7 linked regions of the Homo sapiens genome follow. The protein of the gene in region 1 purifies or fractionates together with the protein of each later gene. This does not show direct contact. Each region holds a gene or a part of one and is shown on either strand. Other genes may lie near its edges. The genes, in order: SHISAL1, ATP13A1, SCAMP1, ATP1A3, SLC12A2, TXNDC11 and SLC25A15.

Evidence for each region.
Region 2: the proteins of SHISAL1 (region 1) and ATP13A1 purify together in Homo sapiens (affinity purification with mass spectrometry; one large-scale study listed by BioGRID and IntAct). This does not show direct contact.
Region 3: the proteins of SHISAL1 (region 1) and SCAMP1 purify together in Homo sapiens (affinity purification with mass spectrometry; one large-scale study listed by BioGRID and IntAct). This does not show direct contact.
Region 4: the proteins of SHISAL1 (region 1) and ATP1A3 purify together in Homo sapiens (affinity purification with mass spectrometry; one large-scale study listed by BioGRID and IntAct). This does not show direct contact.
Region 5: the proteins of SHISAL1 (region 1) and SLC12A2 purify together in Homo sapiens (affinity purification with mass spectrometry; one large-scale study listed by BioGRID and IntAct). This does not show direct contact.
Region 6: the proteins of SHISAL1 (region 1) and TXNDC11 purify together in Homo sapiens (affinity purification with mass spectrometry; one large-scale study listed by BioGRID and IntAct). This does not show direct contact.
Region 7: the proteins of SHISAL1 (region 1) and SLC25A15 purify together in Homo sapiens (affinity purification with mass spectrometry; one large-scale study listed by BioGRID and IntAct). This does not show direct contact.

The regions. Positions count from the first base shown.
Region 1 is NC_000022.11:44,295,733-44,300,082, forward strand, and holds part of SHISAL1 (protein shisa-like-1 precursor), read right to left. Parts: intron 1,154-4,350; coding exon 940-1,153; intron 1-939.
Region 2 is NC_000019.10:19,649,704-19,654,053, forward strand, and holds part of ATP13A1 (endoplasmic reticulum transmembrane helix translocase), read right to left. Parts: coding exon 4,266-4,350; intron 4,192-4,265; coding exon 4,081-4,191; intron 3,018-4,080; coding exon 2,892-3,017; intron 2,095-2,891; coding exon 1,986-2,094; intron 238-1,985; coding exon 38-237; intron 1-37. UniProt on the Homo sapiens protein: Endoplasmic reticulum translocase required to remove mitochondrial transmembrane proteins mistargeted to the endoplasmic reticulum.
Region 3 is NC_000005.10:78,366,625-78,370,616, reverse strand, and holds part of SCAMP1 (secretory carrier-associated membrane protein 1), read right to left. Parts: intron 1-3,992. UniProt on the Homo sapiens protein: Functions in post-Golgi recycling pathways. Acts as a recycling carrier to the cell surface.
Region 4 is NC_000019.10:41,970,231-41,974,580, reverse strand, and holds part of ATP1A3 (sodium/potassium-transporting ATPase subunit alpha-3), read left to right. Parts: intron 1-4,038; coding exon 4,039-4,193; intron 4,194-4,272; coding exon 4,273-4,350. UniProt on the Homo sapiens protein: This is the catalytic component of the active enzyme, which catalyzes the hydrolysis of ATP coupled with the exchange of sodium and potassium ions across the plasma membrane.
Region 5 is NC_000005.10:128,135,140-128,139,489, forward strand, and holds part of SLC12A2 (solute carrier family 12 member 2), read left to right. Parts: intron 1-560; coding exon 561-669; intron 670-3,457; coding exon 3,458-3,585; intron 3,586-3,684; coding exon 3,685-3,769; intron 3,770-4,350. UniProt on the Homo sapiens protein: Cation-chloride cotransporter which mediates the electroneutral transport of chloride, potassium and/or sodium ions across the membrane. Plays a vital role in the regulation of ionic balance and cell volume.
Region 6 is NC_000016.10:11,680,632-11,684,118, reverse strand, and holds part of TXNDC11 (thioredoxin domain-containing protein 11), read left to right. Parts: intron 1-3,487. UniProt on the Homo sapiens protein: May act as a redox regulator involved in DUOX proteins folding. The interaction with DUOX1 and DUOX2 suggest that it belongs to a multiprotein complex constituting the thyroid H(2)O(2) generating system.
Region 7 is NC_000013.11:40,805,761-40,809,785, reverse strand, and holds part of SLC25A15 (mitochondrial ornithine transporter 1), read right to left. Parts: intron 2,493-4,025; coding exon 2,323-2,492; intron 1,349-2,322; coding exon 1,190-1,348; intron 244-1,189; coding exon 119-243; 3' UTR 1-118.

The sequences.
Region 1 (4,350 bases):
AGACATAAACAGCTAGCTCACGGTAAAAGAAATACAAATGTCTCTCAGGCATGTGAAAAGACGGCCAGCTTCACTCATAATAGAGAAACGCATGCTGTTTTGAAACTCCATGACTCTACTTAGCGTGTTCCCATTGCTTTTCTAACAGCAAACTCTCTCTTTCTCCACACCTGTGGTCCCCTCCATCAGGCCCTGATCCCAATGTATTTTAATCACCTTAAGGAAAAGAACTGCATGGGATTAATCTCTGGGTCAATGGTGTCAATCAGTATTTGTTAAATGAATGAAGAATGAATGAAGGAACCCGGTGGATTACAGGCCCAGGCGCCTTCTACGCCTGAAAGCTTTCCACATCCTTAACCTCACTTAGCTTCTATGGTAACCCTGCAAAGTGAGTATTCTGTGTCCCTCCCTCCCTCCCTCCCTCTTTTCTTTTCTTTTTTGAGACGGAGTTTCACTCTTGTCACCCAGGCTGGAGTGCAATGGCGCCATCTCTGCTCACTGCAACCCTCTGCCTCCTGGGTTCAAGTGATTCTCCTGCCTCAGCCTCCTGAGTAGCTGGGATTACAGGCACCTGCCACCACATCCTGCTAATTTTTGTATTTTTAGTAGAGATGGGGTTTCACCATGTTGGCTAGGCTGGTCTCGAACTCCTGACCTCAGGTGATCCACCCACCTCATTCTCCCAAAGTGCTAGGATTACAGGTGTGAGCTACCGCGCCTGGCCTCTGTGTCCATTTCTCAGATGAGAAAGCTGAAACTTAGAAGGCACAATGGGCCGAAAACCCTGGTCATCCAAAGACTCTCCCAGACTCCTTCCAGGCCCACCCAACCTTATAGCGGTTACCCAACCGCCTCCCTAGGGGACGCGATTTTGGGAGGCAGGCCCCTTGCCTGGGGCCCGAGGCAGTGGGGTTGCACCCCCAGAGTGGCACTCACTTGTGCATGTAACCCTCGGAGCTGGCCGTGAGGTTCGCCTGCATCACCGCCTGGAACTCCGTCTCGTTGCAGCAGTATTTGAAGACCGTGTTGTTATGGTGACAACAGAGGATGAAGGTCTTGTTGTCCGAGAGCCGGGGGCAGTGGAAGCCAAAGTGGTAGCGGCCTTTGTGGTCTGTGTATGGTTCACAGACCCGGAAATGTGCAGACAAGACTGGAAGACAGAGTCACCAGGCTCAGAGGGGTCCCTCACCAGTCCACGGGTGCCAAGAGGCAGGGGGACTGGCCGGCCTCTTCTCAGGTCCTGCCTGCTTCTTCCCTCCCCTGGATGCCTTTGTGGTCCACTGTGAGCCTCACCTCTGGGTTCCCATTACCCCGAGCCTCCCAGCCCTGGTTACATTCTCTGTGTCACCCAGACTGGCTGGTCCTGGAGGGCAGGGCTGGCTCTCCTGCTTCGGTGAACATGCTTGACATGCAGCAGTCACTCAATTAGGAAATCAGCCTTAACTGAGCACCTACTGTATGCTTCACAGACCCATCTCATTTAACTCACACAGCCAAGCAAGTCTGAGATCCCACTTTACAGATGGAGAAACTGAGGCTCAGAGACCTAAGGTGACTTGCCCGAGCTGATAAGTGTTGGAGGGACAGGAATGGAACTCAGGCCTGGATTCAAAGTTTGGGGCCCTCTCCAGTCTTGTATCACTAGCTCTTTGTTCCCAGGTGGGCAGTGGTGGACCTGCTGCTCAGCCCAGGCTGGCCCGGGTGGTGGCTGGCATAGGTGCAAGGACCTCTTGGGTACCTCTTGGGTCAAAAACAGCAGACCCTTCGTTCCTTGGTTTCTACTAAACTAGTACCCTAGGCCCCAAGGTCCCCAAGGGCCTGCCTCAGTCACCCCCACCTCACGGTGGTAGCTCTGCCTTGGCCTGGAACCCTCCCACCACTCTGCTCAGGGGCGGAGGCCCCTATTCAGCCACCAATGCTACTGCAAACCCAGGATGGTATTTACGAGTCGTGCCGATGGTGATAAACAGGACTGAAAGTCTGAACAAATATAACAATGGAAAAAACCTAAAGCCCGCTCTCTCAGGCTTAATTAGTATCTTCATAAAAGAGATCGCTGTATCTAATTTGTATCACTGAAAAGGGGCTTCGCTGGCTGAATACATTCCTTTAACCACAAAGGCAGTGGCTTTGCAGGAGTTCCTCCAGCTCGTTGAAAGCTCTGTGTCTGCTGAGAGGTTATTAGACTGCAGCCCACACAGCTCCCCACCTACCCACCCGGGGCTGCTGCAGGGGAGTCCCAGCTGGGCTGGGCTGGGCTGGAAGATGGGCAGGCGGCCTTCATGTGCTGGGGTGCTGAGGCTGCCTCCGGCGGGGGGCATGAAATTCCACACCCCTTCCCCCACAGACAGCACCCTCTTCTGTGGGGATGGGCATGACCACTGCGAGAGAAAGGTCTCAGCTTTTGGGGAACCAGGGGAGCTCTCCAGGCCCCCTTCTCTTCCTCAACCTTAAGAAAGAAGAATACCCCCTCTGGGGATGTAGAGGTTATTAGAGAGCCCCAAGTAGACAGCTGTCTCACCCCATCTCATTTATTCCCATCGTACAGGGGAGAAAACTGTGGCTCAGAGCAGCAGTTCCCAAAGTGTGGCCCCTGATCGGCCTCGAGGGCATCCCCGGAGGGCTTGTCAGAAATGCAGATTCTCAGGCCACTGGGCTTCTGAATCAGAAGCTCCGGGGTAGGCCCCGCCGTCTGTCCTGGCAAGCCCTCCAGGGGATGCTGATGGGCTTGGGTTTGGGGCCCACTGGCCTAGCGGCAAGGGGCAGAGGCAGCTAGCCAGTTCCGGTCACTGTCTGGGTCACTGCCCAGGTCAGTGAGGAGGCCCTGCTCACGCTCAGTGCGTGGGCAGCTGGGGAGGAACCAGGCACACTCACGCTGCTGGGCAGAAAGTCTAGCTTAGGCCCTGGGACCAGCCCGTGAGGCTACCACAGGACTCAGGGAGGGAAGGGACAGAGCGGTAGGGCAGCATGGGGAGGCAGCCTTTGAGCTGGGCCTCAAGGGACTGGGAGGAGCCTGATATGCAGAGATGGGGGGCCGGGGAGGGCAGGCCCGGCGAGGTTGGGGGATGTGGAAGGGTCCTGCCCATTACCAGCACCCAGCTCACCCGGCCACCACTGGGCGGTCAGCGCCATGGGCTTTGGCCATTTGGTAACGATGAAGCCTCCCCGGCTGCCTTCCCGGAGCCAACAGAGCCCTGGGCTGGGAGCCGGGACAACCGGGTGGGAGTCCTGGCATGAGGCTGCCTGGGCCATCGTGACCTCTCTGGCCTCCTCCCCTCACTGATGAAAGACTCATGGTCTCCAAGGCGGGCTGGGGGCTCCCAGGAGCGTTTTGTAAACAGCAAGGCGCAGCCCCCACCTAGAGAAAGAGGCTGTGTGTGCACTAGGGGCCCTACGAGCACTAGAGGCTGTAAAGGGCAGTAAAGGGCAGCATCCGTGGGCTTCTGCTCTGGGGCATGGCGTGACTCCAGGCCGAGGGACACTCTGTTAGGAGGCCCCAGCAGAGCAGGGACGCAAAGGAGAGAGCCGCATTTCGGGCCCCGAAGCCTCAACCATGAACGCACCCCTGTGTGCACAGCTCCACGTAACTCCTGCATCTGGATGGCCCTGATTCACTGGCTGGCCCCTCCCCTGAAGGGGTGACCTCGGGCAGGCCGCTTTCCTTCTGAGTGTCTCACCTTCCTCATTTGTAAAATGGGCTGAGTGGGTCCGTCCTCCAGGGATGGTGAGGACCAGGTGAGCCAAAGCATGGGAAGCATCTGGGGTGGGGAGAGCAGCTGGGTAGCCCCCAGACCCCTGGCCTGGGCGTGGCTTTGGCTTTGCTGTCCGGGGAGCCCTGCCAAGCACCCCCAGACATCCTCATAGCCTCCCTCTGAGCTGCCCCCAGCAAAGGGGCAGGGGCTGAAAACCACCAGGCCAGTGTCAGTGACCCTGTTAGAGCATGCGGGCATGAGGAGGTACAGAGAGACACAGAGACAGAGACAGAGAGATGGAGACAGAGACAGAAAGACAGAGTCAGAGAAAGACAGAGACAGAGACAGAAACACAAAGACAGAGATAGAAAAAGACAGAGGCAGACATAGACAGAGACAGAGACACAGAGAGATAGACAGAGACAGAGAGACAGAGACAGACACAGAGACACAGAAAGACAGAGACAGAGAGACAGAGACAGAGACAGAAACAGAGACAGACACAGAGACACAGAGAGACAGACAGAGACAGACACAGAGACATAGACAGAGACAAAGACAAAGAGGCAGAGGACAGAAACAGAGAGACAGAGACAGACACAGAGACACAGAAAGAGACAGAGAGACAGAGACAGACACAGAGACACAGAAAGAC
Region 2 (4,350 bases), on another chromosome or scaffold:
ACCGCTGTGCCCCTGACCCCTAGGGCTGTGCACATACCTTCTGCTTGGGAGCCACACGGGCGAACACCTGCACATGGGGGATGAGGCGGAGCAGCTGCTGGGGGTCGGTGGCCTGCAGGTGGGCCAAGCCGTCGCCTGTGAGGCACAGTGCGTACTCCAGGGCCAGTGCCTTTGGGGAGCCCCGGGCCAGGGGCAGCACGATGCTGCCGTCAATGGAGCGCCACTCGCACTGCCGGCCTGCGGGCAGCACCTAGGGTTAGGGCTGGGGGCTTGGCTGACCGGGCTCAGAAGCACCCTCCCTCCACTCGGACCCCAGCACCAGCCAGTCTCTCCTCTCTGGAGCCCGCACCTCCCTACCCACCCAGGTGACCCCCAGCCCTTCTCTGGGGACTCCACAAAGAATGTCCCTCAGGTGCACAGGGTGGAACCAAGAGCCTGGGGCCTGAGCTACTTGCCTGAGAGCCCGGGACACAGCCAGATTAGAACCTGGGCAGTCTGACCCCAGCTAAGCCATGCCCCCACCTCATGCAAGGCCCCCTAACCTGAAACACACAGAAGGGGGCTATTGCGCTCTCCTTGGGAAACCCCACACCAGGCCCTCACCTCATTTATCCCTGCGCCCGTGGCCTCTCTGAAATCCTGTTTTCTCGGGGCTGGGCCCCCTCCCAACTCTGACAGGGCCCCTGAGTTCTCAACATCTTCTTGCTCCACTTCCCCTTTCTTGCTGGCTGGCCCTGGCTTGGATGCTGGGCGCTGAGGATGGCCAAGGGCGGCCCGCCAGCCCTCCTGGCACTGCCTGCTCACCCTGGACCATCTCAAGCTGAAGGGCAGCACACTTCCACCTGGCTTGTGCTGCAGCTGTTGCTAGACCAGCTTCGCTTGTCAATCAACAGTTCTGCTCATCCGCTCCATGCCACCTGCCCACAATCCCCAGGCCCTGGAAGACCCCGGTAGCTGGGGCTGGGACAGGGGGAGGCCTGCGACCAATAGAACAGAGGGAGGGCAGGGACCGAGTCCTCTGAGAGGTGGCCTGGAGGTTCCGGAAGCTGCTCTGGCCCAGACCTGTGAATGTTTGCTGCCAGCAGCCCTGTGGCAACACTGCTCCATGTGGTTCTTCTTAGGGCCCTGTCAACACTCATGCAGGTCCTGAACTGCGTGCGCCCACAGGGGCTTCACCTCTAGCTCTGGGGCAGGTATCTGGTAAGCCCCACACCTCTAGCTGGGAGGGGCTGGGTCTCTATGTCTGCCTCTTCATCAATCTGAATCCAGGGCATTGCTCAAAGAGGTCACTGGGGAGAGGTTGGAGCCTTGAGCTCTGGAATCAGGCTGTCTGGATTCCAATCCTTAGCCATGGATTGGAAGTGACCTGGGCAAGTGGGTTCACTTCTGAGCCTCTGTCCCTTCTCTACAAAGCAGGGCCCCGAGAGCTGACCCAGCCAGCTTCCTCCTCTGTGGTGTGGGGAAGGCAAGCCACCCCGTGTGGTGCAGGATGGGGTGGAGGGACCAACGCAGTAACACGCACGGAGCGCTCCGCCTGGGGTCTGGTCAGGCTGAGCACTGGGCAAACTGCCATCAACTGTGGCTGAGGATGCCAGCAGTCCCTGTGCTCGGGAAGGGAGCACTCGGTACATGGGCAGCTTGCCGGGCCAAAGAGGGTGTGAAATGAGGATGACACTGAGGATGGGGAGTAAGCGTGGTAGGAGCAGTATCTGCCCATGAGTGCACAGGAAACCCGAGCTGGCAGTCAGACTATCGCCTCATTATGGTAAATAAACACCTACATGCCGCACATCCTGGGACCTGCGACCCAGTGAACGCTCACATGCTGTCCGAGGTGCCCAGTGGGCCAGGGCTGTGATTAGTGGTGCCAGGCATTTGAAGACACTGTGCTGCTGAGGCCTGGTACACAGGTGGGCTGTTGCGATGGGAGCTGTTCTTGGACTCAGGGTCCCCCTTCCCCACTGTGGGCCAGGCTAGGGCCTCACCTTTCTCGGAGGGAGGCTGCAGGATCAGCGTGTGGGCCTTTTCAATGAAGTGCAGCTCCTGGGCCACGTGGCATGCAGTGAGCGGGTTGTCTCCCGTGATCATGACCACCTTGGGTAAAGAGGGGCAGAGGCTCAGCATGGCACCCTGGGGCCAAGCTCTAGGCCAGAGACAAGGCTGCCAAGTCTCCTTCTAAGGTAGGCCACAGTGGGAGATCCTGGGCCTCTAACCGAGATGCTGAATGGGCTTCCAAGGGCCACAACCCACCCCCACCCAGGTCATTTTACACAAATGACACGTGTATGTGCGTCCTTCTGAAGACACCCTTAGCTTGGATTTGCAATACAAATGAACAACCTGCCCCTGAGGTGGACCCTTTTGGCTTGGTAGCTGCCCATGGGGGTAATATTTCAGCAAAGAGGAGGATGGGACCATGACCTCTGGGCTTGGTGGGGACTAATCACATCACCCATGTGACCCAGAGCCATCATCCTCTGAGACGGCTCACTCACCCCTTACACCCTAAAAGACACCCTAAGTCCCAAAATAGAAAACACAAGCCACCAGAAGCCACCAGGACAGGCAGACAGTGCCCCCCACCCAACTCCCCAGCCTCAGCTTCCTTCTCTCCAGGACGGCGGTGGAACGGGGAAGTGGAGAGAAGTGCCCCCATCTTCCCATGATGCGGGGAGTGAAGGGAGTGGTCTGTGGAGGAGAGAGGAGCCAGCACAGGCGGGTCCCAGAGTGTCCTTGGGCCAGTGGCAATGTTAGCACCTGAGCTATGATCTTGCTCAGCTAAAACATGCAGCCTGTGAGACTTGGGTGCCCACCCCTACCACGAAGCTGTAATTGTCATCTCCTCGCCTCTATTTCCCATGCAGAGGGTGGAGCCGAGCACCGTCCCATACCCGGTGGGACGCATTCTGGATCTCCCGGATCACGGCCTTGGAGTCAGCCTTGAGCGGGCAGGAGACCACAATGAAGCCGACGAACTTGAGGCTGCACTCCAGGGCCTCCCGCTTGACCTCCCGGGCCTGCGGACAGACAGGGGCACCCTCACCATCTGTCCCTCCCTCTGCCCACACTCTGCATTTCCTGAGCTCTGACCATGCGCTGGGAGCCAAGGGGACAATGGAAGGCCCTGTTCCCGTAGTGGGCACATGCGAGGGTTGGGAGGGGAGAAATGCCAGGAGGGTACCAGGCACGCTTGAGGGGTGGGATCTGGCAGTGACTGGGGGGTCTGGGTCCCCCGAATGTGGCTCTATGTCCTGCTTGCGGACATGGGCACATCACAGAGTCCCTTGTGGCTCAGCTTCCAAGTCAATGAAGTAGGGACTCTCCCAATAATGTTGGAGTTTAGCCAGGAACTCTTACTCACTGGGGCTCCACCACATACCACAGACTGGGCACAGACCCCTGGCCTTAGGGAGCTCACACTGCACCAGGGGAGACGCATGATCAAGAAAGTCACAGAAATCGGAGTGCTGAGTGCCATGAGAGAGGAGGTGAGAATGGAATCCAGAGAGGGTGGAAAGGCCTCAGAAGTGGCCACTATGAAGGCGATGAGGACCTGTGTCACTGGGAAGGGGGCTCCAGGTGCAGGAACGGGGCAGAGCATGCAGGCTGTGAGCTGTGGCCTGGGCTCTGCACACAGTACTGCAACCTGAGGCTAAATTCTGGAAGGATCCGCAGCTGTAGGGTGCAAGCAGAAAGAACGAGAGCCCAGGAAGAAGCCAAGCGGCAGATGTGCCGGTGGTGGAGGCGGAGGGTGGGCTTTGTGGAGGATGGATGGGTGAGAGGGCTGAGGATGCCACCTAGCCCTGCCCAAGACCAGGGCAAAAGAGTAGAGCTAGGGACACACCAGGACTGGGGCAGGTAAGCCCTGCGTGTGCTCTGCGTGAGCCAGGACTGGGTGGGTCCCCACAGCAGTGGACAGACTGAGTGCCATTTGGAGTCTCCAAAGGTAGAAGCTGGAGGCGGGGCAAGGAGGACAAAATCACAACCATTCAACCTGGCACTGTGGGACACAGGAGGTGACTCAGGGAGGAGCTGACGGGCCAGGCACATGGTGAAGGCAGGGGGAGCCTGGGCCCGTACCTGCTGGTGAGTGAGGTGTCCCAGCTCCTTGTACCCCAGCGCCAGGACGCGGGCTCCTTCCCGGGAGATCTCGGTGTGGATGTGGTGGTAGTCGGGCGGGCACTGGGAGAACTGCAGGGAATGCAGGGGGATGTCACGGGCTGCCCCGCGCCCCCACCCCTTGCCCCAGGCTGGGGCCAGCTCACCATGGAGTGCAGAGTTTCGGGGGCCCCCTTCACGGCCGCGATGTAGCAGAGGTCGGTGGAGCCCAGCTTCTCATACGAGGCAAGC
Region 3 (3,992 bases), on another chromosome or scaffold:
TAATAGACAAAAAACAGAAACAACTTAGGTGTCCAGCAATGGATAAAGAAACATTACTAATTCTGAAAAGCACCCAAAGCCAAATGCCAAGGAGAAGGGGATTACTGGATTGCTCTCTGGGTATAGATCTGCAAGCCTTCTGCACAGAAAGGAGAACAGGGTTTTCCACACCAGTCTACACATATGAAGTCAAACGCTGCAGGACATTACAGACTGCCTCAGTAGGAACAACTCAGAGACTTGTTACAAGGTTAAATCTAACCAAACTCCATGTCACCTTTTATATCCCACACCCACTGAAAGTTGGAAAATTCTCCCTTGTGATTTAAAAACATCTTACAATATTTGCAAGTATATTACTCCACTACACCACCAAAAACTGTAGGTCTAAATACAGGCTTAACTCTATCACCCTTTTGGCAAGAAAATGTTACTTTACACTTACGGTTTAGCAATTCTGGTTGAAACAGACAGACTCACTCAGGTCACCCCAAATGCTGGGAGCAGGAGAATATTTTAAAGATATATACAGAAAGAAGAACGCCAGGTTTCACAGAGATTGAAATTCTTCATGACATGGCACATCCCTTCTAGTTAAAAAACACCTCTAATGAAGGACAGGAATTCTTGAAAATGGCCTTCAAAAGCCTAGTGAGATAACTGCTATTCCACTGCTTTGGACAAGTACCTTTGTTAAGATCAGTCAGCTGAGGCCAGGGTGGCAAAAGTCACACCCTAGAGGACATGATCACAAATGTGTAAGCTACCATGAGGGCTGCTCCCTCAGCAGAAGCTGAGGCTCAGAGCATAGCTGGTCTCTGAACATAAAGCATCCTCTCTAGCTGAACTGATCATACTTAATTCCAATATCCAATATGGTCGATATATTAGAACAGAGAAAATGCAGGAATACCTAGTTTCACTGTACTTCACAGATATTGCCTTTTTTAAAAAAATAAATTGAAGGTTTGTGGCAACCCTGCATCAAGCAAGTCTCGCAGCACCATTTTCCCAACAGCATGTGCTCACTTCACATCTCTAGCGTCACACTACGGTAGTATTCGCAATATTGCAAACTTTTTCATTATCATTATGTCTGCTATGGTGATCTGTGATCAGTGATACTTGATGTTACTACTGTAATTGTCTTGGGGTGCCACAAACCATGCCCATAACACTGCAAACTTACTTGATAAATGTTATGTGTCCTGGCCGGGCACGATGACTCACGCTTGTAATCCCAGCACTTTGGGAGGCCAAGGCAGGCAGATCACCTGAGGTCAGGAGTTGGAGACCAGCCTGGCCAACATGGTGAAACCCCGTCTCTACTAAAAATACAAAAAGTAACCAGGTGTGGCGGTGCACGCCTATAGTCCCAGCTACTCGGGAGGCTAAGGCAGGAAAATCGCTTGAACCTGCGTGGTGGAGGTTGCAGTGAGCCGAGATCACGCCACTGCACTCCAGCCTTGGAGACAGAGAGAGACCCTGTCTCAAAAAAAAAAAAAAAATTGTGTGTCCTGACTATTCCACCAACCAGTTGTTCCCATTCTCTGTCCCTCTCCTTGGGTCTCCCTATTCCCTGAGACATTACAATATTGAAATTAGGCATCTCTGTAGGTTATCCAACTTCTGCTTGAATTTCTGCAAGTGCTGGAGAATGCCCTACCAAAAGAGCATTGTCAGGCCATGGTAGCAGATTTTTAAAAGTCTGTTTGGACAAAATTTACCTTTACCTTCAAGTAAACTTTGCCAGTTAACCTTAGATTCTTTTTCTAAAGCAACAAATAACAAGTTTATTCACTTACCTAAGAACACTTTAAGTATCTGATGGGAGCTCTCCTATTTCCCTTTAGCCCTCTGTAGACTAAATCCACTGAGTAATTGAAACTTAAATTGTTCTTCCTAGAACTTGATTCCAGTCCCATGACCATTCTGACTGTCCTCTTTGGGCATATCCTAGTATTTTCAAACCACTCTTTAAATATGCACTTGCAATTGAGAAGAATACCCAGCTATTAGACCAGAACAGAATACTATAGGATTATTAATTTTAAGGAACTGATCACTAATTTCACTAAGCCAATATATATTTTTCAGCAACTATATCACACTGGTGGTTCATATTAAGGAAATAACCAATAAATTATTTGGATCTGCATTTATCACTATTAAATATTAATCATAGTCCAAAAAAAACTTTTGGTAATATCAGCACAAGAACAGTTTACTTTCGAAATTTTCATAATCACCATCATCTCATATGACTGTAAAGCTACAGGGCCAAAATAAAACTGTGTTCAAATCTTAGTTTTGTCACGTGGCACAGCAGCCTCCTATGGCAGCAGCCTTCCCCTGGCCATATGAGATGCTCAACCTAGACAAAAGTTTTCTAAACATCTGAAGAATACCGACCATGGCAACGGACACTTCACCCTAAATGAAGATTGTCTCAAAAAGAATGACAAATGTGGTTTTTAAGGCATGGTTTGAACTCTGGTAAGATTAAAAAGAAACTGTTAAGAGAGTTGTGACAGCCTGGACTAAAGAAACAGTTCAAAATTAATAGAAACTTCTGGGCTCCCAATTTTCAATGGGCAAGAAGCAGGCCAAAAATGCTACTCAGCTGCCAAAAGGGCTCATTCTTATAGAAAAAAATAAATAAAGGACCTCTCAGAGGGTGGAGCCAAAAGCAGAAGAAAATAACAGGTGAAGGAACCAATACGAGGTAGCAGAACTGGGCCCTAATCAAGAAACATTCATTGTCCCCAATGTAGGGGACCCTAACAACACGTGCCTGGCTAGATTTCAGAACTGCTATGCATCAGCAGGTGCTACACGCCTCCCACTCTTTCCCTATTTGAATGGGAGTGTCTAGTGAAGTTATCCTACGACTACCTCGCCATTTTATACTAGGTGTATCTTCAGATCATAGGTCTGTCTCCAGTCAAGAAGTGGAGCCTATTGCTTGCCACTCCTTTTAAAATCTAGGCTGAACTTGTGCCTTGTTTTGACCAACAGAATACAGCAGAAGTAGCATATGATTCAAGAAGCCTTGTAGATTCAGCTCTTGCCCTCTGGGAGCACTGCTGCTACTATGCACAAAGCCCATTTATTACTAGTAGAGAGGCTACATGAAAGACAGCTAATTGCTGTGCCCACTGACATCTCCAGGTAACCAGCAGGCACTTGAGTAAGGATATCTGAAACCATAAACCAGGTGACTGAAGCCACTTTAGTGACTCCAGAAAAGAACATTAAAAAAAAGAAAAAACCTGCCCAGCTAAGTCTAGCGCAATTAACAGAATCGTGAGCAAATAATTGTTATTTTAAGCCATTATATTTTGGGATTGTTACATAGCAACAGATAAGTGAGACAGTGGTAAATAAGATAATGGTGCATCTTACAAAGGATGGCATCTTAAGTTGATGAAATATAACAGCAGCTCAATATGTGCTTTTTAAAAACATTAACATGAGGAAAAATGAGCAGGAATTCATGCAGTTGACATGAACGTAAAATAACACAGGCCCACAAACTGCAACCACTATGTTCCAGATTAATGTTAAAAGACAGTTTTCAAAATGTGACAATCACAAAGGAAATCCTCAGAATACTTTCCTAGTGCTATCCAATCTCCAAACTCAAAATTTTATATCTTTTTTTTGTTTGTTTTTTGGGTTTTTTTTTTTTTTTTTGAGACAGGGTCTCACTCTGTCACCCTCCCGCCTCAGCCTCCCAAGTAGCTTAGATTACAGGTGTGCACCACCACACCCAGCTAACTTTTAAATTTTAGTAGAGATGGAAGTCTCACTATGTTGCCCAGGCTGGTCTCAAACTCTTGGGTTCAAGCAATCCTCCTGCCTTGGCTTCCCAAAGCACTGGGATTACAAGCATGAGCTATCAAGCTCAGCCTCAAAATTTTAAACAGATAAGGGAGGAGTGAAATCAACTTGTAAGTATCATTGTCAAGGTAAATGAAATAAGATGGATA
Region 4 (4,350 bases), on another chromosome or scaffold:
AAGAGAATTCAAACGGCAAAGCCGAGCCCAGAGTAACAGATTAAATGTCCTCAGCCCTTGTCTCCTATATCCCAGAGGAAACCATGGTTAACACCTTCTTATCTCCCAAGAGACATCTTTTTTTGGGGGCTGGGGGCGGGGATAGAGTCTCAATCTGTCACCCAGGATGGAGTGCAGTGGCACAATCACGGCTAACTGCAGCCTCCACCTCCGGGACTTAATCGATCCTCCTGCCTCAGGCCCCTAAGTAGCTGAGACTACAGGTATGCACCATCACACCTGGCTGATTTTTAAGATTTTGTAGAGATGGGGTTTCGCCATGTTGCCCAGACTAGTCTTTCTTTTTTTTTGAGACAGAGTCTTGCTCTGTCACCCAGGCTGGAGTACAGGCATGCAATCTCGGCTTACTGTAGCCTCCACCTCCTGGGTTCAAGCAATTCTCCTGCTTCAGCCTCCCGAGTAGCTAGAATTACAGGTGCATGCCACCACACCAGGCTAATTTTTGTATTTTTAGTAGAGATGGGGTTTCACCATGTTAGCCAGGCTGGTCTTGATCTCCTGACCTGAAGTGATCCCCGCACCTTGGCCTCCCAAAGTGCTGGGATTGCAGGGGTGAGCCACCTCGCCCAGCGAGGTCTTCAACTCCTGGGCTCAAGCAATCCTCCCACCTTGGCCTCCCAATTTGCTGGGATTACAGGCATGAGCCACCACGCCTGGCCTCCCCAAGACATCTATGCATACACAGTACACACACTGTCTCAGATACAGCCGTCTGCTCCTTCCGAATCTTGTGCATCATGCTGGAAGCCTGGGAGGCAGCTGTGAGCAGAGCAGACACCATCCCTGTTCTCACAGGGCTGGAGAGACAGCCTTAAACAAGTTAACAGATATGTAATTACAAATTGTGATATATGCCCCGAAGAAAGCAGGCCGCTGTGATAGATAATAGTGAGGGTCCTGCCCAGATGGGGTGGACAGGGAAGGCCTCTCTGAAGTGAGGGAAGAAATACCTAACTTCCGTCAGGGGCCAGGCACGGGGGCTCACGCCTGTAATCCCAGCACTTTGGGAGACCAAGGCGGGAGGATCGCTTGAGCCCAGGAGTTCAAGACCTGCCTGTACAACAAATTAAGACCTCAAAGATCAAAAAATTTTAAAAATTAGCAGGGCGTGGTGTTGCACACCTGTAGTCTCAGAGACTTGGGGGGCTGAGGCAGGAGGATCACTTGAGCCTGGGTGGTCGAGGCTGCCATGAACCATGATGGTGCCACTGCACTCCAGCCTGGGATAGAGCGAGATCCGAGACCCTGTCTCAAACAAACAAACAAAATAACTTCCAACGGGGGCATTCCAGATATACCCAAAAGTAAAGCAAAGGCACAGTGGGCCCCTGCGCCTCCATCCCACCTGCAGCGGCAGTCAGCGCACGGCACACCTTGTTTCTTCCCCACCACCTGGAACACACACTGGATTATGCTGATGCACATTTGTCACCATTTCATCCATAAATAGTTTAGGATGAGAAACCCCTAGTTTGTGGAGAAGAGCACAATGCAGGGAACGAGAATATCAGGTGGGAGCGGCCCAGGCCCTTATTGCTATGCAAGAGACATCAAAGCAATCAAAGAAGCCACACCACAGGCAGCCTGCTTCACCTTCCCTTCCCTCCCTCCCTCCCTTCCTCCCTCCCTCCGTCCCTGCCTGCCTGCCTTCCTTCCTTCTTTCCTTCCTTCCTTCCTTCCTTCCTTCCTTCCTTCCTTCCTTCCTTCCTTCCTTCCCCTTCCTTCCTTCCTTCCCCCTCCCCTCCCCTCCCCTTTTTTTGATGGAGTCTTGCTCTGTTGCCAGGCTGGAGTGCAGTGGCGTGATGTTGGCTCACTGCAACCTCCACCTCCCAGCTTCAAGCGATTCTTCTGCCTCAGCTTCCCACATAGCTGGAACTACAGGCACACACCACCACTCCCAGCTAATTTTTTGTGTTTTAGTAGAGATGGGGTTTCACCATGTTGGCCAGGATAGTCTCGATCTCCTGACCTCGTGATCCACCCGCCTCAGCCTCCCAAAGTGCTGGGATTACAGGTGTTTGCCACCGTGCCCGCCTGTTCTTTCTTAATGATTGACCTCATTGTTCATGGGCTAATCTTTTTACTTATTTATTTATTTAGAGACAAGGTCTCACTCTGTTGCCCAGGCTGGAGCGCAGTGCTGCAATCATCAGTCACTGCAACCTCGACCTCCTCAAGTGATCCTCCCACCTCAGCCTCCCAAGTAGCTGCGACCACAGGCTCGAGCCACCGTGCCTGACTAATGTTTATTTTATTTTATTTTATTTTTTTGAGATGGAGTCTTGCTCTGTTGCCCAGGCTGGAGTGCAATGGCACAATTGCGGCTCACTGCAACGTCTGCCTCTGAGGTTCAAATGATTCTCCTGCCTCAGCCTCCCAAGTAGCTGGGGTTACAGGTGCCCACCACCACGCCCAGCTAATTTTTGTATTTTTAGTAGAGATGGGGTTTCATCATGTTGGCCAGGCTGGTCTTGAACTCTTGATCTCAGGCAATCCTCCTGCTTCGGTCTCCCAAAGTGTTGGGATTACAGGTGTGAGCCCCAGCGCCTGGCCTGGATTAATCTTTATTTTGTTTACTTTAGACAACCTGTACTGGTTGAATATTTATTGAGATATGGCATGCATACAGTGAGTTGGGCATATTATATCTCATTAAAATATTCAACCAGACAGGGTGTATAAATTTTTACACATGTACACAGCCATGCAACCACCAGACCCCAGTCAAGATAGAAAACCATTCCAGCCCCCCATTTAGGTTTTGTCTGCTCTCTTCCAGTCTATATCCCTCCTCCTAGACATAACCATTATCCTGACTTTTAGCCCAGAGACGGGTGCTGAGCCTGCTCCAGTTGGAGTTGGATGCTAAGAATGCTTTTGTGTCTGGCTCGTGTCACTCAGCACGGGATCCAAGGTCCAGCTGTGGAGTTGTGTCCGTAGCTCGCCCCTTCTTGCTGTGTAGTATTTGACTGCATGGATGTACCGTGGTTTATTCATCCCTCACCTGTTGATGGACATGGGGTTGACTCTGGCTTTTGGCTCTGATGAGTGGTGCTATGGTGAACATTCTCGTACTTGCTTTTCGCTGGGCATAAACAGTCCTCCTCTCTTTTGGGTATAAAACCTAGGAGTCGGATTACTCGGTCGGTGGGGTGGGGGATGTTTGATAGCAACTCCGAAACCATCTTCCAAAGTGGTTATTTCAAGAATGTTTCCACAAAGGCGATGTGGTTGGATGTTTATGTGGAAAGGTAGGTGGGTGAGGGGCCAGGTGTGGAGACTTATGCCTGTAATCCCAGCACTTCGGGAGGCTGAGATGGAATCACAGCCCAGAAATTAGACAAGCCTAGGAAAAGTGGTGAGACTCTGTCTCTACTAAAAATACAAAAATTAGCTGGACGTGGTGGCGCGTGACTGTAGTCTCAGCTACATGGGAGGCTGAGGCAGGAGGATCACTTGAGCCTGGGAGTCGAGGTTGCAGTGAGCCGTGATCATGCCACTGCACTGCAGCCTGGGCAACAGAGTGAGACCCTGTCCCAAAAAGAAAATAATGGTGGGTGGGCTGGGGGGTAGAAAAGGACGCTGGACAGGCCGGGCGCGGTGGCTCACGCCTGTAATCCCAGCACTTCAGGAGGCCGAGGAGGGCAGATCACGAGGTCAGGAGATTGAGACCATGCAGGCTAACACAGTGAAACCCCGTCTCTAATAAAAATACAAAAAAATTAGCCGGGCGTGGTGGCAGGTGCCTGTAGTGCCAGCTACTCGGGAGGCTGAGGCAGGAGAATGGCGTGAACCCGGGAGGCGGAGCCTGCAGTGAGCCGAGATCGCACCACTGCACTCCAGCCTGGGCAACACAGCGAGACTCTGTCTCAAAAAAAAAAAAAAAAAAAAAAAGGACGTTGGATGAGGGCAGAGGAGGGGCAGAGGGAGTGGGGCTCCCTGGCATGGGCGCCTGCTCTGAGCCTGCCTGTGCCACAGGCCGCCTGATCTTCGACAACCTAAAGAAGTCCATTGCCTACACCCTGACCAGCAATATCCCGGAGATCACGCCCTTCCTGCTGTTCATCATGGCCAACATCCCGCTGCCCCTGGGCACCATCACCATCCTCTGCATCGATCTGGGCACTGACATGGTGAGCCCTGGCAGCCACCCTTGGGGCCCAGGAGGGTGGAGTCCTCCCCTCTCCGGCTCACCCGGCCTCCTCCGCCTAGGTCCCTGCCATCTCACTGGCGTACGAGGCTGCCGAAAGCGACATCATGAAGAGACAGCCCAGGAACCCGCGGACGGAC
Region 5 (4,350 bases), on another chromosome or scaffold:
GTGGAGAAGGGGAAATGGTAGTTTTCATAGATTGTTCTTTCCTTCCAATCCCATTGCTACTTGAATTTCCCTCCTGTATATTGTCATCTTCTTTCTGTACTTTTTCTTATTTTCCTGTAGCAATCACACACTCAACATTATGTTTGGACCATGTATAAAACTTGTGTTTGTGTCCAGCATGTTCTCCATGTCAAGATGGTAGTGTTAAGGTGGAAGAGACAGGAATGAATGATCTAGAATGAAAGCCTATATTGTTTTGGAATTTACAGTGCTTTATGGTTTGTGGGAAGGCATGCACATCTTTAACTCATTTCAGAAATATGGCATGATCTCACTTTTACTATCTTTTTTTTCCCCAGATATTTCTTTAAAGATCTCTTTGTTCATTAAACAAGGATTTATTGAGCAGCTGCTTGGCATATGGCATTGTTTAAGGCACTGGGGAATCAGGCAAAACAAGACAGAAATTCTTTCCCTCATGGAAGTTATATTCTAGGGGAATTGAATCAAGATATAGAAACAAGATACTTGATTTTAATTTTTAATGTTTAAAATTGCAGGCTCAGATTGTTCTTTTGGTGATCCTACTTCTTGCTATTGGTGATTTCGTCATAGGAACATTTATCCCACTGGAGAGCAAGAAGCCAAAAGGGTTTTTTGGTTATAAATGTAAGTAAAAAAGATTCAATATTTTTTAAGGGTACCTATTTATAGAATTCTATCATCAATTAAATTTTGTACATTTCAGATATTTTGTAACAGAATTGACTATGGTTTGGTGATTCACCCTAATTTACAATTTAGTTTTGTCCCCTTTATGCTGTACAGTTGGAGTAAAAATTACTTCTATTTACATCTTTTCTTTTTCATTATTAGCAACAAAAGGTGATAGAATATGGAGAAATCAGTGCTGCTAAGAAAAGGAGATTTTATTCTCTACTAGTTTTGGGAATTTGTAACTGAATTTCTAACTTTTGTTCTAATATGACTTTCATTCTTTTAACATATTTAAGCACAACAGTATAAAAGCGCCTAAGATTGTGAAAGCAATTATTGGTATAATTGCATTTTTCAAGAGTGCAGGCCATTTGATTTTTAGGAGATCTCTCCAGTTGGGTTTGTCTTATTTGTTTTTATAGATTCAGGTTATTTATGTTTGTCAGGAACGTAAGTGAACCGTGTCTCCTTCTCAGTCCAGCACATTTGGAGGGTGCATGATGCAGTTTTTTATATTACTTAGTGGTGTTAGTTTTGATGACTTAGTCAAGGTTATACCTGCACAGTTTCTCTATTGTGAAGTTGCTGTTTTTTTCTTTGCAGTTAGTAAGTGATCTGTGGAAGAATACTCTGAGACTGTTCATAGCCCTGTCAAACTTCTACCAAATGGCTTCATCCTTAACCCCTCTCACATCTGGCTTTTGTTGGTTAAAATATGTCAGATGGTGATAGATGCACTATGAATTTTTTGTCCTCTGCTTCATTTCTCTTAGTCATTCCTTCTCCTTCTTGAAACATGTCTATTTTATTCGATGTCAGATACCCTAGGTGCCTAACTCACTGGTCACTATGTCCATTACTCCTGTTACCCCCTTTAAATGCAGAATTTTACAACTATTATAGTGCTGACCTTCTAACTATACACTCTCCCTTGGGTGGTGTGTATTCTCATGGCTCAAAATGCTATTAAGGGACTGACATGTTTCTATTCCTGAATCTCTCCTTTAAAGTCCAAACATAAATATATATCCAACTGATTATTTGAAGTCTCTCCTACTTATTTCTTCTCAGGCTTTTCCATCTAAGCAAGTAGCTGAAACCAGGATCTTAGTGTTTCCCGTCCTACCTGCTCCTCTTAATTTCTAATCCTTTCCTAATCAGTGTATTTATTCTCCCATCTCTAGATTGAACCTCTGCAGCAACCTCCTAATGGGCCTCCCTGTTATCAGATGTTGAATCTTTCAGTCCATTGTCCACACAACATTAATAGTATATGTCATTTGCGTGTTTATGACCCTACTTTGGTTTTCCATTTTATTTAGGATAAATTTAACTTTTATAAAATATTCACACTCTGTTCCTCAGTGGTCACTCCAATTTCATTTAATTTTTCTCCTTACTATAAGAATTTTATCTTCTTTTATTTCCTCAGAAGAGTTAAACCTTTTTCTACTTTGGGGTCTTCATATATGTTGTTTCTCTTTTCTGGTATACTCTTTTTCCCTGATGATCACATGGCTGATTCTTGCTCAGCAAACTCTTAGCTTAAGTATTGTCTCCTTCCTTATATTTGCTTAGCCTTCTGTAACCACATTGAATTAGATTCTCTCTCTCTCTCATTTGTTATTCACAAATCCCTGTTTCCATCAGAACATTTACTGCTGTTTATAATTACCTGTTATTTTGGTCATTTGCTATTGAGACTCTTAAATTCCATGAAGGCAGGAACAATGTCTAACTTGTTTATATTGCATCTCCAAGTACTTTGAGGTGCTAGAAAGCTCTAGTACAGGACCTGACACATAGTAGCTGCTGAAGTATTGAATGGATAGATGGATACATTACAGTTAGTCGGTTATCTTAGAGTCAGAGATGAAAACACTAGGTCTAGTTGAAGCTTTTATTGTTGTTGAAATAGAAAGGAACTTTACTTAGGGTAGCTAATTGTCTGACAGCCTCAAAAATCAATAGGTGACTAGACAGCAGAGAAAGCTGTGGACCAAAATCTATACAGATAGTAAAGTAAGTTGGAAGCTATCAAAAAGTTGATTCTATATTATTATGATGTTGCTTTTGTTTTCCTTTTTTTTTTTTTTCTTGAGATGGGGTCTCACTCTGTCACCCAGGCTGGAGTGCAATGGCATGATCATGGGTCACTGGAGTGTCGACTGTCCAGGCTTAAATGATTCTCTCACCCCAGCCTCCCAAGTAGCTGGGACCACAGGCATGTGCCACCACTCCTGGCTAATTTTTTAATTATTTCTAGAGTCAAGGTCTTCCTTGTGTTGCCCAGGCTGGTCTCAAACTGCTGGGCTCAAGAAATCTGCCTGCTTCGGTCTCCCAACGTGCTGAAATTACAGGCGTGAGGCACCACGCCATGCCCCCTTTTGTTTTTCTACCTCCCTTCTTGCTTCTTTTACCTCAGAGATTGAGGGGATTATCCACATTTTGATTTGCATTTGGGCTAGTCATAACAATTCATTCAGAGGCTCTTGAAACATAATTAGCGAGGTATACAAAAAATGAGACATGAATCAGATCAGATGATCATTTTGATGGTAAACCATTGTCTCATACAAGAAAAGAACACCAAATACTTGAACTGGGAAATATGCAAAAATTTACTCGTTACTTTAACTGAAGAAAAGTTAGGGGTCATGTATACCTATTATTCTTGACCTCAGTTATTATAGTCTAATTTGCTCTCCATTAATTGTCAAGAATATTTTGTTCTCTGCAGCTGAAATATTTAATGAGAACTTTGGGCCCGATTTTCGAGAGGAAGAGACTTTCTTTTCTGTATTTGCCATCTTTTTTCCTGCTGCAACTGGTATTCTGGCTGGAGCAAATATCTCAGGTGATCTTGCAGTAAGTATTATAAAGTGCTATATCAATTATATATTTTAAAAGTGGAATTTGTATATTTATTTTTACAGATAGACTTTAAAAAATCTTCTTGTCTTCTAGGATCCTCAGTCAGCCATACCCAAAGGAACACTCCTAGCCATTTTAATTACTACATTGGTTTACGTAGGAATTGCAGTATCTGTAGGTAAATAGTTTCACATTTCTTTATGTGTCGCAGAAATTTCATGATGTACGTACTATAAATACTTATTTTTATGACATTTGCTAACTTTTTTAAATACAGAAATATTTCAATAAAAAGACATGGAGTTGCTCATTATAATTCAAAAACAGTTTTTAGAAAACTAGTAATGACTTCTATAGACATTATCTAAACCGCCAAATGCTTTATGGTATCTCCAGGATTTTTATTAATTATGGTAAATTAAAAAATTATATGAAATTGCATCTATAAACTCATTCCACTGAGATACTGAAAACAATGTATGTGTAGAAGCAAATGAATTTCACTCTTACAAATTTCTGTATTTTTTTAAGATGGTTATTTATTTTTTTTTTTTACAGTATATGAAGATTCTTTCAAGGCTATTAAGCAATGCTTGGCAATTTTTTACTATAAAAACACTGGTTTTGAAGATTAGGACATACTAAGTTTTACTTAGGAAAAGTTTTACTAAATTCTTAGTAAATTGAATGAAAGTGATTTCAAAACCATGTTATTACTTCATGGGATCATGGATCAACTTCATGGTTACTTCATGGGAT
Region 6 (3,487 bases), on another chromosome or scaffold:
GGAGGTCTGAAAATGAAATGGGTTTAAGATGTAAATCATTCATTATGTTCAAAAAATGTTCCCTTAGGAACCAGGCGTGGTGGCTCATGCCTGTAATCCCAGCACTTTGGGAGGCTGAGGCAGGCAGATTGCTTGAGCTCAAGAGGTTGAGACCAGCCTGGCCGACATGGTGAAACCCCATCAGTACAAAAAATACAAAAATTAGCCAGGCATGGTGACATATGCTTGTAATCCCAGCTACTCTGAGGCTGAGGCACGAGAATCTCTTGAACCTGGGATGCGGAGGTTGCAGTGAGCCAAGATCACACCACTGCACTCCAACCTGGGTGACAGAGCGAGGCTCTGCCTCAAAAAAAAAAAAAAAAAAAAAGTGTCCTTAGGGACATAAAAGGGTTGTAGTGTCAGGATGTTATGTGTGGTATGGATCTTTTAAAGGTTGTTTTTCCCAGTCTATCTCTTACCCGAGCTTGAATGTGGCCGTGAGAATTCTTAGCTTTCATGGCCTGTATGAACATATGGAGGACGCAGAGACTGACAGGATTCTTCTGTTGCCCTGGCTGGAGTGCAGTGGTGCAATGTTTGTGTGGGGCAAAACAGCAGAGAATCTGTGGAGCCCTGCCTGCCCCAAGCCTTCCACTTGCTTGTCTCTCAGTTGGCCTCCCAGCAGCTCCTCATCCCTCTCGTACAGAGGACAGGGTGGCTTTCTTACCCATGGCACGTCCTTTTCTCGGATTCCAGGAGGCCTACAAAGGGGTTTTCTCCCATGCGTGCAGACTGCTGTGAACGTCCGCCATGGGATGGTCGCTTGATTTTTTCACACTTGCCTAATCAGTATTCCAGGTGCAGTTCTTAACGGCAACTACCCCGGAAGCCCCTGCAAGCAGGACATTAACAAGGGGGAGCGGACTTCCAGTTAGTAAACGTAGATGCAGATGTTTTAGTGGAAAAAGAAATTAACTCTTGGTCCTTTAGAGCCTAATACACTGGATGTTTGCTCCCTTTTTATAGATTCCCTTTGGTTTTTAGAAAGTTGAGTCCTTTTGGGGACCCACTCACATGACTTTGACAGTATCTTCTCTCCAGGGGAAAGTGTCTGCAGCATCATTTAGGGAGTTCCCTGGCTCGCATGTATGACGTTTGCTGTTTTAATTTCCTGCCTCCCTTTTGCGATTCAGCTTGTCATGTTTCTCTAGGAGAGTGTTTCCTTCATATCTATTGAATCATTCCCTTGGTTTTTGCTTTGTATCTCAAAGAATTTTTGCGGGAGTACTTCTGTGGTAGTAGGGTCTTGTCACATCATGCACTAAAAACAGAATGTGACTCACCCTTTTCTACTGCTGACTGAGTTGTGATGAGGCTTTTTCTTTCTAAGAAGTGTTTAAATTACCACATAGTCCAGGAATCACGGACAGTAACACTAACACTTTCATCTGTGTGGGCCAGGAGTTGGGCATGTAGTTTAATGACGTATAATTTTTGAATTCCAAGCATAGTTTGAAAAAATATGAAAATCTTAGCACCCAGCACATGCCTTTTAATGAAGAAGTTCTCAGCAGCTGGCAGAAATGCATCTGTGTAGAGAGACACAGGCGGAACAGGTGGCAGGGTGGGGCGTCATCTGGAGGCCTGCGTCTGGGCTGAGTGACCTTCGTTCTTAGGCTGCCTGGTGTGGGAAACGTGAAGATGTGCGCATTTCTCCGGCCCCATGCTGGGCACTTGCTGCAGGCCCTTACCCTTGTCGTTTCTAAATATCGAACATAAGAAGACTGTCCACTTCTCTTTTAATGTAAGGATGTTGGTAAACCAAAGCTTTATGGCTTTGGAATGGAATTTTTCTCATTTCCTAAAAATAAATGGTAGAAGTAAAGTATGCTCATCATGAGCTGGTCCCAAGCGAGTGTTTGGTTTAGCCAGAAGGTAAATGGGCAAGCAGCGTGAGCTGACAGCTTGCAAAAGAGGAAATGAAAAAGGCTGTTGGATAACATGTAGTAAGACCTTTTTCATTGTCCACCTGCTTATGCTATTTTTAGTGAAAAGAATATGAAATTGTATATTTACTGTGATAAAATATAAACTTGTGCATGTGCTAGGTGGAGATGTTCACAGAGGGGAAAATGTTGAGGTGTTAACATTGATGACTTCAGAGGAGTGAGATTGCAAGTGATTTGAAGGTGCTGCTTGTATGTTTTTACATCCCTTGCAAATTGTCTACAAAGAGCATGTCTTGATTTATAAAAATCATGAAGGAAAAAAATGCAAGAGCCTGTCCTTGGGAGGAAGAGGAAGGGGTGGGGCCTTGAGGGAGACATAGCCTTCCTGTGCAGAGGCATCTTGGAGCCACTTGCTCCACCGAGCAGGTGCTCCTCCAGCCAGCACTTGCGTCAGACTCTGTGTGACATTGCAAAATATAGGTGCTCTGGCCTGGCCCTGGGCCAGGGTGATGAGGGGGAGATGGGTGCTCCTGTCCACCAAGAGACTCTGATGTGTCCCAGGGGAAGAATCACAGTTTTTTAGAGGTGTGCCCTGCCACTCCCTCAGGGTTAGAGGAGAGTTGCATAGACATGGGGACCTCTTCCCACCATAGTTTCACATGACTGCTTTCCTGGAAGTAGACTGTTGACATTCTCTGTCCCTGCTACTTTCACAAAGTGTGGCAGTATTTTAGTGTGCCCATTAGGGACATTGATGGAGAGTGCACCAAGACCTCTTAGTTAGCAGATAGCATGCTCACGGATGTCACTGTCCTGTAAATGTCTGGAGGTAGACATCCTGAGGGATCTTGGCAGCTTTTTCTGGGAAGTAATTCACGTTTACTCTGCCTTACAAGACCAGGCTTGTGCCGCAGAACGTGGGGGCAGGTCCAGCGTCTGGTATTCTTCCATGGGCCCACTTGACAGGGCCACGATGTGTTTTCAGTTGTTGTGGGGTTTTTTGGTTTTCTGTTTTTGAGACAAGGTCTGACTCTGTTGCCCAGGCTGGAGTGCAGTGGTGCAATTACGGCTCACTGCAGTCTTGAACTCCTGGACTCAAGTGATCCTCCCACCTCAGGCTCCTAAGTAGCTGGATCTACAGGTGTGTGCCACCTTGCCTGGCTAATTTTTTTATCTTACTTTTTATACAGATGAGGCCTTACTATATTGTCCAGGCTGGTCTCAAACTCCTGGCCTCAAGCGATCCTCCCACCTCAGCCTCCCAAAGCACTGGGATTACAGGCACACAGCACCACACCCAGCTTTGTCATTTGAATGGCTGGGCCCCACTTGAAGAAAGCTTATATGTTAAGAAAACTAAGCTTTAAAGGAGGGGATGGTTGAATGTTTACCCCAAAATTATAAAACAATTTACGGCCGGGTCCAGTGGCCCTGGGCAGCCAGGCTCTGGAGTCCCTGCTGTTGACTTCCATTCTGTTAACACCTGAGGGAGACAAACTCGGCTGCCGGCCCACCTCATACCTAAGTGCATAAAGCTGGTAGTTTTGATCAATTGC
Region 7 (4,025 bases), on another chromosome or scaffold:
AAAAAGCAAAATTCCCAAGAAATCAGAATAACTTCACACTGGTCTTGTACTCCAAGAAACCCTGAGATGAACTGTAGTCCTCAAACACCTGTGCTTGGCTCAGGCCCACCAAGACACTTCAGTATGCTTCCAACTGGTTCATCATCAACTTCCTGCTATATTCGTAGGCCAAAAAGAGTGCTCCATTGGCAGGGAATGCTCGAATCATAGTAGGTTTCAGTCCAGAATATAAGGCCGTTATTCCTAGCAAATAAAAGGGCGGTCAAAGACTGCAACAATCCCTCCTTTGGGGATACCCACGCAGCTGCATAGCATAGGTATATTTACACATGCAAACCCAGACAACAGTGCTAAAAACCAACAAGTCATAGAAGGATGCATTCCCAGCTTTTCCTAAATAGACTAATGGAAACAAGGACAAGTATCAGGTCTCCTGGCAAAACTGACTGATGCTCAGGTAACATACCCCAATTCCACGCTTGGTTAACTCTTAGTATATGGATGGGGCAGAGCTGAGGCCTGAGATGGCCAGACAGAGGCAACCATGGAGATAGAGGTGGCAGCAGCTTTGCAGCTTCACCTGGGCAGTGGCAGGAACACCAACCTTGAAGTTGGAGACCTGTGTATAGTATTAGTACTGCCCAGGGTGGTTATGAAGATTGAATTAGATAAGGGAGGTGTAAGTACTTTGTAAAACTTTACATGTTATACAAATGTAAGGGAGGATTACTATGAGTAACAGACAAGGTATCTGTCCTCTATTTGGGACACAAAGTTTCTGTGTTACTGTCCTCTTTCTTTTTACAATCAAAACAGAGTTCATATCTCAGATTTTTTTTTTTTTTTTTTTTTTGAGACAGAGTCTCGCTGTTGCCCAGGCTGGAGTGCAGTGGTGCAATCTCAGCTCACTGCAAGCTCCGCCTCCCAGGTTGACGCCATTCTCCTGTCTCAGCCTCCCGAGTAGCTGGGACTACAGGTGCCTGCCACCACGCCTGGCTGATTTTTTTGGTATTTTTAGTAGAGACGGGGTTTCACCGTGTTAGCCAGGATGGTCTCGATCTCCTGACCTCATGATCCACCTGCCTCAGCCTCCCAAAGTGCTGGGATCACAGGCATGAGCCACCACGCCCGGCCCGTATCTCAGATTTTAAGATGTATATAGATGCTTGAAAAACAGGTATTTACTCACCTTCATTTTTCACAACATTTATAAAGGTTCTGATAAATCCTGCCTGTTTTCCAGACATGGAAAGAACTTGAATTCTGGATTTGATACAATCCACTGGGTATACCGCAAGCCAGAGGCAAATCCCACCAACTCCACCACTTAACATCAAAGGTACAGGGCCTAGAGAAAAAAAAAATAGCAAATGGTATTTTGTCTCAAGAACAGCTGATGTGACATTTCCAGAGGTCAATGTAGTAATGGCTGCAGGTAGATGAAAATAAAAATGCTAATGCTACAGAATACAATTCTTTGAGGAAAACTGTCAAAGCTCTTGTTCCCAAGCTCTAAGAACACAGGGTTTTGTTTGGTAGCCCAGGTCTACTCCTGGGTCTTGCCAAGTACAAGAAGCCTTAGTGAGGGTTATATTTCGCTTGGTCACTGAGGTGTCAAGGGCTGGCCCACACGAACCAGCAGGCCTCCAGCTGAGTGGCAACCCCCTACAGTGGGGAGAAGACAGGCCAAACACAATCTATGTCTTTTTTCAACTTTCTCACTCTTAAGTATTTTAATAGCCCTGATTCTTCATTTATCATTAAAAGCCAAAATTGTTTTTATTAAACATAGCAATTAAGTCTGGGAGCTTGACTAACCACAGAATAGATTCAACACACACTGAGGGAGATGGTAAGAAAAACTCACTTATGTGAGCCAAACATTGCATGTAGTTGTACCAACCAGCTAAACACGATAAGCTACAAAGAACTATGGTTTTCACTGCTCTCAAAACACTATTAAGATTTCCAAGTTTTAACCTTATTTCAAGATTATTTATAGGTGATTCCCCAATTGGGAAAGTAATTTCTGGATTTCTTCTCCCCTAAAATAGATCCAGAAAAATTAAAAAACTTTATTCCAGTAAGAAAGTTTGGGATGTACTGCTTCAGGCCCTGTCCTAAGGAAATTATCAGGCCTGGAGGGTGGGTGCTATCAACTGCCTGCCACCATGTTACCTTCAGGCATCCAGAAGCTTCCCTGTGCCAGATGGAGCCACCAATGTGGGGAGGAGAGCACAAAGGGCAGAGAATCCACAGAAACCATACCTGCAGGGAGCAAACACCATCACACCCCACTGCTGTCAATGCAAACACATTTACCTAATTCATCTTTTGATCTCCCTGATGCAAAAAAGGACCGGCTCAGTTCATAGCCACCGAAGAAGAAGAAATAGCCTGGTACTTCTCGAAGTAAAGTGCTTGAGAGTCCATGGTAGAACCCCAAGGGGCCATCTTTCCTAAGAATACTTTTGATGACAGACCACACTGTACTGGGAGGAGACACAGAGAGATAGCACGGTTACAGCAGGTGGGAAGGAAGAAAAGACAAGGGCATTTGCAACCAATTAACAGATCTGATCAAGCACTAGTAAGGAAGAAGCTGATTTTGTAAATGAAGAGCCAGGAATTAAGACTCAACGGCATCCTTCTGTGGGAAGGAAATTTATTTACAGTAAGGAATTATCTAAACTCAGCAAACATAAAATGGCATTGTATTGCCCAGTCCCTTATCGCTGTGATTCCTATTTCCTCAATCTTTCTGGTGTGTTTTTGGGAAATTTGTTCAGGTGTTTACAGGATCTGTTTTTAGTGCAGAGAAATGAGTGAAGGAGTAAATGTTGTCTGAAGACAAGACAAATTCTGAGAACAAGTTATATAGCTCCTGTTATGCAGAAGCACCAAGAATTTATTTCTCAGAGCACCAGGGATGCGGGAGAATTTCTTCTAAGCAGCCCTGCTCCTGTAGCAGCCAGAACACAGGACACTCTTTGTCTGACTCCCCTTCATGATTGAGGGCAACCAGGGCAGGTTTATCCCTGCTAAGAACAGGCCAAGAAATCACATACTCAGTGCAACTTAGTGAATCCCTCTCTCCTCACTTTGTTCTCAGCAAGAAGGAGACTTGGCTTGGACAGATGAAGGATCAAGTCCCAAGGTAATAAAGGCCACAGACATTTAAAAACTATTTTCCTTCTGAGAGCTTCAGAAGACACTGTCAGGTATTCCCCATCAGCCAGCCCTTCCTGCAGCACTGCTACATGGAATGTAACAAAGTAATCCAGCTCAACACAATTAACCTCCCTTCCAATCCGAGTCTTAGCCCCAAGCTACCATACCATGCCTTGTGTGAACACTGCTAGACCTCAAATACAAAGTCAACTGATAATTCAAGGTGTTGATCTGCCTAAGTCCTTTGGATATAACTATTACTATCTTTTAATTACCTTGAATTACTTCCAAGGAACATGAGGGCAGCTTTCTGGGTGTTGTTAATGTTCTATTTGTTAATCTGGACACAGGTTACAAAGGCACATAAATTGTGTCACTATTTATAGAGCTGCATACTGTGACTTCAATGTGCATTCATGATACTATGTGTATTATTTCAATAAAAAGTTTTAAAGACTTACACTCTTGGACTTCTAGGCAATGAATATTAGATTCAAGTTGGCTGTAATGAATCTCAAGGGTGCAGAAAATAGGGCACTTTTCCAAACCCCATTCTCACTGAGTGGGGACTGATCCTTGAAAATGGTCAATTTATCTACTGCTTTTTCCCAGCAGATTTATAGGCTTTGAGTTAACCACAGCAATATCCTTGGTCAGAACTCAGCCAGATGTCAAGATAAGTAAGCAAGTTTTGCAATTAATAAGGATAATAAATTGCTTTCCAATTCAAGTAAATCAAATTGTGTATGAAACAGTACTCTCAAAGGATAATGAGAATGTGTTTTCAAGAGTGAGCTAGAGAGTGATTTAATCACTGAAGAGTAGCTATGCTTATAAAAGTATTGATTAATGTT